Linked DNA regions of Homo sapiens: region 2 is linked to region 1. Evidence: fine-mapped expression QTL. A gene starts in region 1. The other region holds a variant in brackets. All regions are shown on one strand. Distances are from middle to middle.

Region 1 (5,381 bases):
GACCTCAGAATGGTGACCCCACCATTTCCTTCTTCTAGTATGTTGCCATGGCTCCTTCCAGGTAGGCTGATGGGAAGTCAGCCTGCCCTCTGCTGTAGTCATAACGAGCTGAACTGATGACCAGTGCTGGGGCCCAAGGTGACTGCACTCTGGTTGGACATCTGGGAAATGAACTGCCCCTGGGAATGCTTGGCTTGAAACTGTCCAACAGGATAGCTTTCAATTTGATGGCAGCCAAAAAACCTACAGAGCTCCTCTCTTTAAGAAGTGTCAGGGGGTGGCCAGGCGCAGTGGCTCACGCCTGTAATCCCAGCACTTTGGAAGGCCGAGGCAGGTAGATCACGAGGTCAGGAGATCGAGACCATCCTGGCTAATATGGTGAAACCCCGTCTCTACAAAAAATACAAAAAATTAGCCGGGCGTGGTGGCGGGTGCCTGTAGTCCCAGCTACTCAGGAGGCTGAGGCAGGAGAATGGCGTGAACCCGAGAGGCGGAGCTTGCAGCGAGCCGAGATTGCGCCACTGCACTCCAGTCTGGGTAATAGAGCGAGACTCCGTCTCAAAAAAAAAAAAAAAAAAAAAGAAGTGTCGGGTTAAGGAGAGGCAACTCATCTTCTAGTGAACAAGTGAGTTTTAATTTTGGTTCTCCCCTAAGCTCTACATCTTAGTCTTAGCTTGTCCCACACTTCTGGGTATTCTTGCAATAAACTCCCAAGCAAAGACAACATGGGCATGTATTTTCTTGCAGCCTCAACTGCTTAATTCAAGTGCTCTCCCCACTGATCTCTGAGACACATGTACAAAGACGTTGGTAGATGCATTGTTTGTAATGACAGAAAAATGTGTCCACTAATATGGGCTGGTTAAGTGATCGTATTCATCAAATATAAGATACATCCCAATTTAGAGACATTAAAATATCAATCAAATGGCCTACAGTAGTTACATGATGTAGTTGATTCTTCTAATATGTGAAAAAATGTGGGTCTTAGACTTGGAGAACTAAGGTATGGTGTATTCACACAGTGGACTACTTTGCAGCTGGGGTAGGTAATGGCACAAAAGGAGGTGTGTGTCGTGTTACCTGTAACAACCTGAGCTTGAAAAGTAAACAGTCTTAAACCAAGTGGTGAACACACGCATATAGTTTAAGTATTTTTACAGCTTTTTGTTTGTCTAAGGTATGTTAAACATTTTTCTTTTTTTTCCCAAGATAGAGTCTTGCTCTGTTGCCCAGGCTGGAGTGCAGTGGCTTGATCATGGCTCACTACAACCTCCACCTTCCAGGTTCAAGCAATTCTCCTGCCTCAGCCACCCGGGTAGCTGAGATTATGGGCACCGTCACCACACCTGGCTAATTTTTGTATATTTAGTACAGACGGGGTTTCACCATGTTGGCCAGGCTGGTCTTGAACTCCTGACCTCGTGATCCACCCGCCTCAGCCTCCCAAAATGCTGGGATTACAGGCATGAGCCACTGTGTCCGATATGTTATACATTTTTATATATATACATTCTGATATGCTATATACAGTTATACCCAGCCAATATGTTACACAGTTTTCTCTCACTGGGCCTAGCAACATTTTTGTTATGTTATACATTTTGTTATACATTTTTTCTAACCGGGCCTAGCAATCTGCTTTATCTCCCTTGTTCTGTGGGAAACCTTGTGTTCAAGTGATAGCTTAAAAATCAATTCTCGGCTGGTGGCGGTGGCGGTGGCTCACGCCTGTCATCCCAGCACTTTGGGAGGCCAAGGTGGGCAGATCATCTGATGTTAGGGGTTTGAGACCAGTCTGGCCAACATAGTGAAACCTCATCTCTACTAAAAACACAAAAATTAGCTGGGCGTGGTGACGGGCGCCCGTAATCCCAGCTACTCGGGAGGCTGAGGCAGGAGAATAGCTTTAACCCAAGGGGCGGAGGTTGCAGTGAGCCGAGATAGTGCCACTACACTCCAGCCTGGGCAACAGTGTTAGACTCTGTCTCAAGAACAACAACAAAAAAAAAGACAAAAAAAAAAAAAAAGAATTCTATAAATAAAGGAGTTGAGAGAAACATTCACTGTCCCTTATCTCTACATGTTGATTATCAGAATAAAAAGAATTCCAGCAACATCAGTCATGGGCACAAAGCCAACCCGTAAACATTTACAGAACTCGATGATTACCCAAAACTCGGCTTGCTTTCTCAATACTACTGACTTTGGCTTCACATTAGCCACAGGTGTGTCTAGAGTTAAACAAGGTCAACTTTACAAAAAAAAAAAAAAACAAACTGATACTTGGGCATAGTTTAAAAAAAACTTAAAAGTGTGTGTGTGTGTGTGCGTGCGCGTGTGTGGTGGGGGGCGGGGCATTTCAATATAAATGCCTTAAACACAACCTTCCTGGCTATTTTATAAAATGGGTTGAATCTCTAAGGACACATATTTCCTAAGACCTCGACTGATACACAGAGTGCAAACTTGGGAGCCAGACTAGACTGCCTCAGAATCATGCCAGCTGTGTGGCACTGGAAAGTCACCTAATTTTGCAGCGCCTACCTTCACCTCTGTAAAATGGGGAACAATAATAACTAATTTATGGATGCTGTAAAGATCTGAAATTTTAAACTCAGTAATGCGCCTGGCACACATTAGACACGGGTGTTTCGTTTGTCTTGGCAAAGGCTTCGGGTTTTGCGACAATAGCCTTGCTGCCTCCGGAGCAAGCATCTCTCCTTGCCCCCTCTGGGGCATTTAAAAATGACCTCAATTCTACTCTCAATTATGTCCAGTTCAACAGTTACGTGCAGGTTACAAAGCCGAGGAAGCTGAGGTATCTTCTAAACTAACATAGCACGTACAGAATTTTTTTAAAGTTTGGTGGAGGAATCGGCAGCACAAGGTAAGCTGCGCTCTGTTCACAGACCTGGGAATCAGAACTCCGGCCGCCGCGGCCTCCAGGCGCCTCTCAGCTAACAGACTTCCTGCAGCAGGGGGAGGGGCGGCCAGCTCGCTGCAAAAAGCCGCAGGACCCCCTCACCCCGCCTTGCCGCCCCCGCTCCCACTCTCTGGGATGGGGAGTGCAGGGTCTAGGCGATGGCACTTACCAGCGCGAAGTGCACCAGCGCGTCGTAGCAGAGCCAGATGAGCGCCCCGCGGTCCGCCGCCCCCTGCCCGCGGCCCAGGCGCAGGCCCAGGGCGCAGCCCGCCGCCAGCAGCGCGGCGCACAGCAGCAGCGAACCGCCAGCCTCGGCCCCCAGCTCCCACTCAGCGCCCATGCTTCAGGCTTCCGACGCCAACGGCCCAGGACCATGCGGCAGAGGAAAGCAGGGAGAGAAACGACGGGGCGGGGCTGGCCGGGAAGGGGCGGAGCCGGATGGCCAAGGAGGAGCGGAGCTGATTGGCCAAGGCGGTCCGGGGAGGGACGGGGCTCCCCGGCCGGGTCGGGGCCAGAGCGAGGATTCCGTGCCCGCCTCGCACCCTGGCCAGCCTGCTGAGTCCGGTGGTTTTGCCAGGTGCCGCCCATGGAGGTTCCGTAGAAGGAACGTGCTCACCAACTTGCGCAACCGCCTCGACCAAACCTGTTCCCAAACCGAGCCCAAAGGATTGGTAATAGGGCCACACCTTTTGATGTTGTTTCGCTTTTAACAAGGCTCAAACTTTAAGCCACAAAGTGAAGCCTAGGTAGTGGAAATTTTGCCAGTAGACCGGGGCAGAATTTTAGGGGCAAAAGGTTTTAATTAGGCTGCAGCAAGCCTTACCAGGGAGGCTGGGGGCCAAGGGAGTTTTCAGCCACCAGCCGGCTTAAAGCCTTTATGGCCTACTCTGACAATCTTTCCATTTCTTAAAAATCCAGAAAAGTAGAAGGGTGGGTGAGAGGAGCGGTAAGTCCTATTGGCTTGGCGATAGATGCGTTTAACCTGTGGCAGGCCAGGTTTCACTATCGCAGGCCTCCATCACAACTGCTTCAGCACTGAGTGGTTAAATTAAATATTAAAAGCTGAGGCCGGGCGCGGTGGCTCACGCCTGTAATCCCAGCACTTTTTGCCAAGGCGGGCGGATCACGAGGTCAGGAAATCGAGACCATCCTGGCTAACACGGCGAAACCACGTCTCTACTAAAAATACAAAAAATTAGCCGGGCGTGGTGACGGGCGCCTGTAGTCCCAGCTACTCCGGAGGCTGAGGCAGGAGAATGGCGTGAACCCGGGAGGCGGAGCTTGCAGTGAGCCGAGATCGCGCCACTGCACTCCAGCCTGGGCAACAGAGCGAGACTCCGTCTCAAAAAACAAAAAAAAAATTAAAAGCTGAAAGAGTCAGTGCCCATATACCAAAGTCTGGAATGTAACAAAAGCCCACCAAGAGTTTTGCCTAGGCCTTTCTTGGGCCTTGAAGCATGACAAGATAACTAAGGAATTTTTAACAGGACCCGTTTAGGATTAAACAAGTTTTATTGGGGGTCTGAAGAAACTCCCCAGGCCTCCAAAAACAAGTTTATTGGGAGTCTGGAGGAATTCCACAAGCCTCCATGATTTAGCAAGAGACAAAATAAGGGTAATCATCCCAGCACCCAGACCTATTTAGATTAAGTAAATTTACTGAGGCTCCAGAGGAAGGTCTTCAGGATTAGAAGTTGTTAATCACTTACGTCTTTAGATGAATGCACTCTTACACGTAGACATATAGCTTAGAAGGTATATACGCTCTGGAAAAACTTTGTAATTATGAGTTGGTCTGGCAATAATTTCCAGACCTTCTCCCTGTAACCGGTTGCAGAAATAAAAACTCTTCTTCCCCAGTTCATCTGCACCTCATTATTGGGCTGCCCAACCCCCAGTTTGGTCCGGGAACAAACCTACATTATTTAACATCACAACAACCCTATGAGGTCGGTGAAATAAGCCAGTCACAAAAACATACTTATGATTCCACTTACAGGAAATATCTAAAATAATCAATTTGCAGAAACAAAATAGAATGATGGTTACCAGGGGTGGGGCGGGGCGGGAGTGGGGGGGGGGCGCGGGGAAAAGTGGAGTGTTATTTATTCGGATAGTTTGATTTGCAAGATGATGTTCTGGAGATTGGTTGCACAACAACGTGAACATACTTTACTGAGCTGCACACTTAAAAATGGTTAAGATGGCAAATTTTATGTGTATTTTACAGTTATTAAAAAAAATGCTGGCACTGAACACAAGAAATTTTTCCCTTAGTCACTTCCTATACCATTTTTTATAGCAGTTAACACCAGATAGAATGATCCTTGTTTACACACTTATTGCTAATCTCCTGCCACTATAATGTAAGTCTTCAAGGCCAGGGGTTGTGGCTAGCTTTTTTATTGCTGTATCCCTGGCACCTATTACAGAGTTTGGCATATATTAGCTGCTC
Region 2 (5,381 bases), 28 kb after region 1:
CCACTATTTGTTCCACATTTTATGCTTCTATCACACTTTAATTTTATTTAATTATTTTTTTTTAACACAGCATCTCGCTCTGTTGCCCACGTGGGAGTGCAGTGGCGTGATCTCGGTTCATTGCAACCTCCACCTCCCCGACTCAAGCGATTCTCCTGCCCCAGCCTCCCAAGTAGCTGGGATTACAGGCACGCATCATGATGCCCAGCTAATTTTTGTATTTTTAGTAGAGACGGGGTTTTGCTATGTTGGCCAGGCTGGTCTCAACTCCTGACCTCAAGTGATCCACTGTCCTCAGCCTTCCAAAGTGCTAGGATTACAAATATGAGCCACCGTGCCCAGCCATCATCATACTACTTTTAAAAACTCCTTTGTTGGTTCTTCTTCCCTTGCTGCCATTCCTGAAACGCCAGGAATTCCTAAGTTACATTTTTAGCCCTCCTTCCGAAATACAGCCTCCTCCAGGTGATCTCATTCAATGCCCAGGTTTTCATCAATCCCTTAAATACTGACGAATCCAAAATCTGTATTGTCTTTTGCTTTTGGAAAATACCGCCACTGAGGAACAACAAGTTCCAAGTTCTACTCACTTTATTTCCTAACACTCAAAGTTTTTTCTCCCTTAACGATTCCTATTATTGCAATTTAGTAATAGTCCATGCCTTCATCAACTTCCCTAAACCTATTATGATAGCAAAATACATCTACCTACAGTCAAACTTTCCCTACTTCAAACCTTCCATATTTGTGTTATTTGTCTGTTACAGATAATTTTATCTGTATAAAACAAATATCATTTCTCGATTTAAAAAATCTACAATGACTCTGCAGTCATTACAAGATAAACTTAAAACTCTTTAATATAGAATCAAAAACTCATATAAAAAATTAGCAGGGAGTGGTGGCATGCACTGTAATCCCAGCTACTGGAGAGGCTGAGGCAGGAGAATTCCTTCAACTCGGGAGGCGGAGGTTGCAGTGAGCCTAGATCGCGCCACTGCACTCCAGCCTGGGTGACAGAGCAAGACTCCATCTCGGAAAAAAAAGAAAAAAAAAAAAAAAAGAATCAAAGACTCTGCAAATTAACTCCTTAGCGAACGTATTAGGTTATTATCTACATGTATTCTCTTAAACCTCCATGTATTCTTGAGTTCTTAATATCTTCCCCCGTGTTCTTGAAATGACTTTCTCTCAACCTGTGAAAATCCTATTCATCCTAGTTATATGACATGAGACAAATTACTTAAGTACCTCTGCTTCTTTTACAACGTTTGTAGATGATGGAGATAATGAGAGTACCAATCTCACAAGAATTTTGTAAGAATTAAATGGGTTAACATAGCAAAAGTGCTTAAAACAGTGCCTGGCAGATTTTAAACTCAATAAATGGTAACTATGAACACTATAATCTTTGACTCTGTCCCCACTTCTGTCTCCTTATAATGCTCGTCTCAAATGTTACTTTGTCAACGAAGCTTTCTGCTTCGCTAGCAAAATTATCTGTGCTTCCATAATAAAGCACTTTGGTCACTGCTCTATCTTACCTTTTTTCTTGTTGGCTTTCATACCATGTTTTATGTTTATGTGCTTATGGTATGATTTTTTTTTTCACTGTGAGCCTATGGATTATACTGAATATGTGATCATGGTATGAAAAAGCACAGGCCTTGGACCTGGCTTCAGTTCTCAGGTATGGCTCTCATTCATTGCATGACCTTAGAAAGATTATTTAACTTTACCGAGTTTCAATCTCTGTATTTGTAAAATAGAAGAATAAAACTTATCTTACAAGGATACTGGTAAGATAAAAGGAGTCTACAGAGAGATCCAGCACAGCAATTTCTTGACATAAGTTCTTTCCTTTTAACTCTTTTTACATCTTTAATGTTAAGGTCTTAGAAGGCATGGTCTCTTTATGTCTTATCACTGAGTGTACAATTCATGGCACAATTCTGGCTTTAAGTGGAATAATTTGTGAGTGTTTGCTAAACTTGACTAATATACCTGTAACTACAGTACACTGCCACTTTAATACCCCAGCTTTCACATAAACACAACCAACAGATGGTGAAAGCTTTTATTTGCCTATAATTAATTCTATAATGTTCTGGGGGAAAGTCCTGAGGCAAACAGCAGATATTTTGCTTATTCCCCTTTTAATCTTTGCTGTCAGAAAGCTTACAACTAAACTTACCTTTCAACAGCAACAACTAAACTTCTGTATAAATTTTACTTTTTCCTTTACAGATATTATCTTATATGTCTTTTGTTAAGTCACTTTATATCCATTTTGGAAATAAGACGGCATATAAACATGTTTTACTTCATTTTAATGACATTTTAGGCTGTGTCAAACACGAAGTGACTTTAGCTACCTTTAAAAGATTCCATCCTGAGAGCTTAAAATCTGCAAATGAGCTAGAGTAATGTGATACAATTTTTATATACAAATTATATTGCCTTGTGAGAAAGGTAAGCAAAGATGTATTTCTTTGTCCCAATGATAAATTACACACAATTCACAATTCTGCCACACATATACACATATGTATGTACATGTTATGTGTATGTAGATAAAGATTACAAAAACACAAATATACAACAAATCAGAAAGAGATGTTAGTTAGAATAAAAGAAACTGGATCAACACTAGTCACCGAAATTTATCCACTGTTTTACTCCATGGAAAAGTAACAATTTACCTTACTGCATTTAGGAGAATTTTCAGATTGCCTAGATAGTATCAAACTTGCCAGAACGTTGACAGTAAATGCTTCACTAAATCTGAATATAATGAAAAAAAATCACCTAAAAATGCCTTGCATTTAAAACTATATATTCTTCTATACTATATCTAAAAAGACTGTAGCATAAAAAGGCAGCATGGTTTTGTGACAAGTACCCAAGACCTGTTATGAGAAGACTTTAATTTGAATATTGACTCTGACCCTTACTAGCTCTTCCACTTTAGATAAGTCATTTA[ATCTC/A]TCTCTGAGAGTCCGTTTCTTCTTATTCTATAAAATGGGGGGAATAATATCTAGCCTATCTGTTGTAAGAACCAGTGAGATTTTTTTTAAAAAGTAAGGTGTTTCATGAGGTTTTACCGCTTTACAAATATTAAGGTTTAAAAACACTACTTAATAATGACAGAAATAAACTACATATGCAGTAATTTCTCAAAAGTGAGCATTTTTGCTGTCTGGCTGTTACTGCTTACAGATTTAAGCTATAAACCTAATTTAAGCTTAATCCTATTTCTGAAAACTGTAAATACGTTGTAGAAACTTGACAAGTTGATAAAATGTATGCTGACACTTACATAAAAACCCTTTCTGTCCCATCAAGAGCAAAATCCCACATTTAAGCTGCTTCTTAACTTACGTTTATATCTGTATGGTATATGAGGACACATAAAGCTGGCAAAATCTGAGGAAAGAAAATAAACAATACTTAACATTAGTTAATTAATATGTCTGTAAAAATGAACAACTTTGACATAAAAAGCGGTAAATATGGTTTGTAGGGCGAGAAAGACAATGTTAAATTTGTCTGAATATCTTTTAGGAAAATGAAAACCTGATAAATTCAATCTAAAAAAACCAAAAACATATCTCAAATGTTAAACTGAAATATGTTCAATTAACAAGTTAAAATATCCAAATAAATCTGGCAGAAGTTAATGTACCTTAAAATAAAAACATTTGTTTTTAATAACCTTCTTTATGGCATAAAATGTCAAGTGGAAAAAATGGAGATGCAAATATACAGTTACAGCTATTTAAGAAAAGCTACACTTAAAACTGCCGTAATTGTCTCACTTACCTGCTTAACGTAAAAATACGATTTTACTTAATAAGCTACTTAAGTCAAATTAAAGTTTTCAACTTCACCTTTAGTCAAGAAAATTCGAACCAGTACAAAGTACAAAGCTTTGCTTGTTAAATTCAGGCCCCAGAGATCTCTTTTTAAAATATGGGAGAAAGGGAGCAGGGGGTTGTAGGAAATCACACAAAATACCTTTGCATAGCAACAAAAAGTAGCAGGTACTAGAGAAAGATGTCCATTATAAAGATACACAGTTGGCCAAGTGTGGTGGCTCATGCTTGTAATCCCACCACTTTGGGAGGGTGAGGTGGGTGGACTGCTTGATGCCAGGAGTTCAAGACCAGCTGGCCAACATGGTGAAAACCCATTTCTACTAAAAATACAAAAATTAGCCTGGCATGGTGGCACATGCCTGAGACATGAGAATCGCTTGAACCCCGGATGTGGAGGCTGCAGTGGGCAAAGATTGTGCCACTGCACTCCAGCCTGGGAAACAGAGCGAGACTGTCTCAAAAAAAAAAAAAAAAAAAAGAGATAACACAGTCAACAGTGAATAAAGGTTATGTAGGATTTTTTTTTAAAATGCAAAGCACAAGGATCTATTTACATATCAAATGTAAATAAAAAAGTTTTTACTTTGTTTTAATTAGTAGATTTAACAAAAAATATGTCACACTTTTAAGAACTCCAATTTTGTCAGTAATAAATTGGAGTTAGGCCGTGGGGGCAGTGGCTCACACCTGTAATCCCAGCACTTTGGGATACTGAGGTGAGCAGATCACTTCAGGTCAGGAGTTTGAGACCAGCCTGGCCTACACAGTGAAACCCCATCTCTACTAAAAATACAAAAACTAGCCGGGTGTGGTGGCGCTGGCCTGTAATCCCAGCTACTCAGGAGGCTGAGGCACGAGACTCGCTTGAACCCAGGAGGCAGAGGCTGCAGTGAGCTGAGATCATGCCACTGCACTCCAGCCTGGGCAATAGAACAAGACTGTCTCAAAAGAAGAAGAAGAAGAAAAAAAATCAATTGGACTTAAAGCAAACTCATTCAAGAACATTTGCATGTAAGTATACTAGTTTTGCCTGTAGCAACCCCCTTTTATAGCTTTAAACCAACAATGCAATACAGTAATAAAACTTTGAGATTGTTTTCCTTTTGTATTTTTCTCTCTGAATTTTTATATTTTCTTTTTATGCAGATAATCAAAAAAATAGGCATTAGGATGAACTGACATTCTTTCAGGTACAGTAAGACACTCAACTTTTATTTCATAGGAGTAATTAAATATGGTACGTTACTTTTAAAATCTTACACCTGTGGCTGGGCGTGGTGGCTCAGGCCTGTCATCCCAGCACTTTGGGAGGCCGAGGCGGGCAGATCACGAGGTCAGGAGGTCGAGACCATCCTGGCTAACATGGTGAAACCCCGTCTGTACTAAAAATACAAAAAAATTAGCCAGGCGTGGTGGCGGGTGCCTGTAGTCCCAGCTACTCAGGAGGCTGAGGCAGGAGAATGGCGTGAACCCAGGAAGTGGAGCTTGCCGTGAGCCAAGATC

Evidence for each region.
Region 2: its variant is fine-mapped to the expression of EBPL in whole blood (INTERVAL, PIP 0.90).

What each region holds. Positions count from the first base shown.
Region 1 is chr13:49,688,159-49,693,539 of GRCh38, forward strand. It overlaps EBPL (EBP like), which reads right to left and starts at 3,328. Exons shown (of 4, transcript NM_032565.5): 1 at 3,096-3,328. The coding sequence starts at 3,266. RefSeq lists an enhancer at 2,623-3,620 and silencers at 3,084-3,223, 3,254-3,453.
Region 2 is chr13:49,716,394-49,721,774 of GRCh38, forward strand. KPNA3 (karyopherin subunit alpha 3) reads right to left here. Exons shown (of 17, transcript NM_002267.4): 10 at 3,382-3,426. Among named protein-coding and RNA genes, the nearest start is that of EBPL, 28 kb to the left of the region's middle. The variant ATCTC/A (reference allele first, on the strand shown) is at 2,984.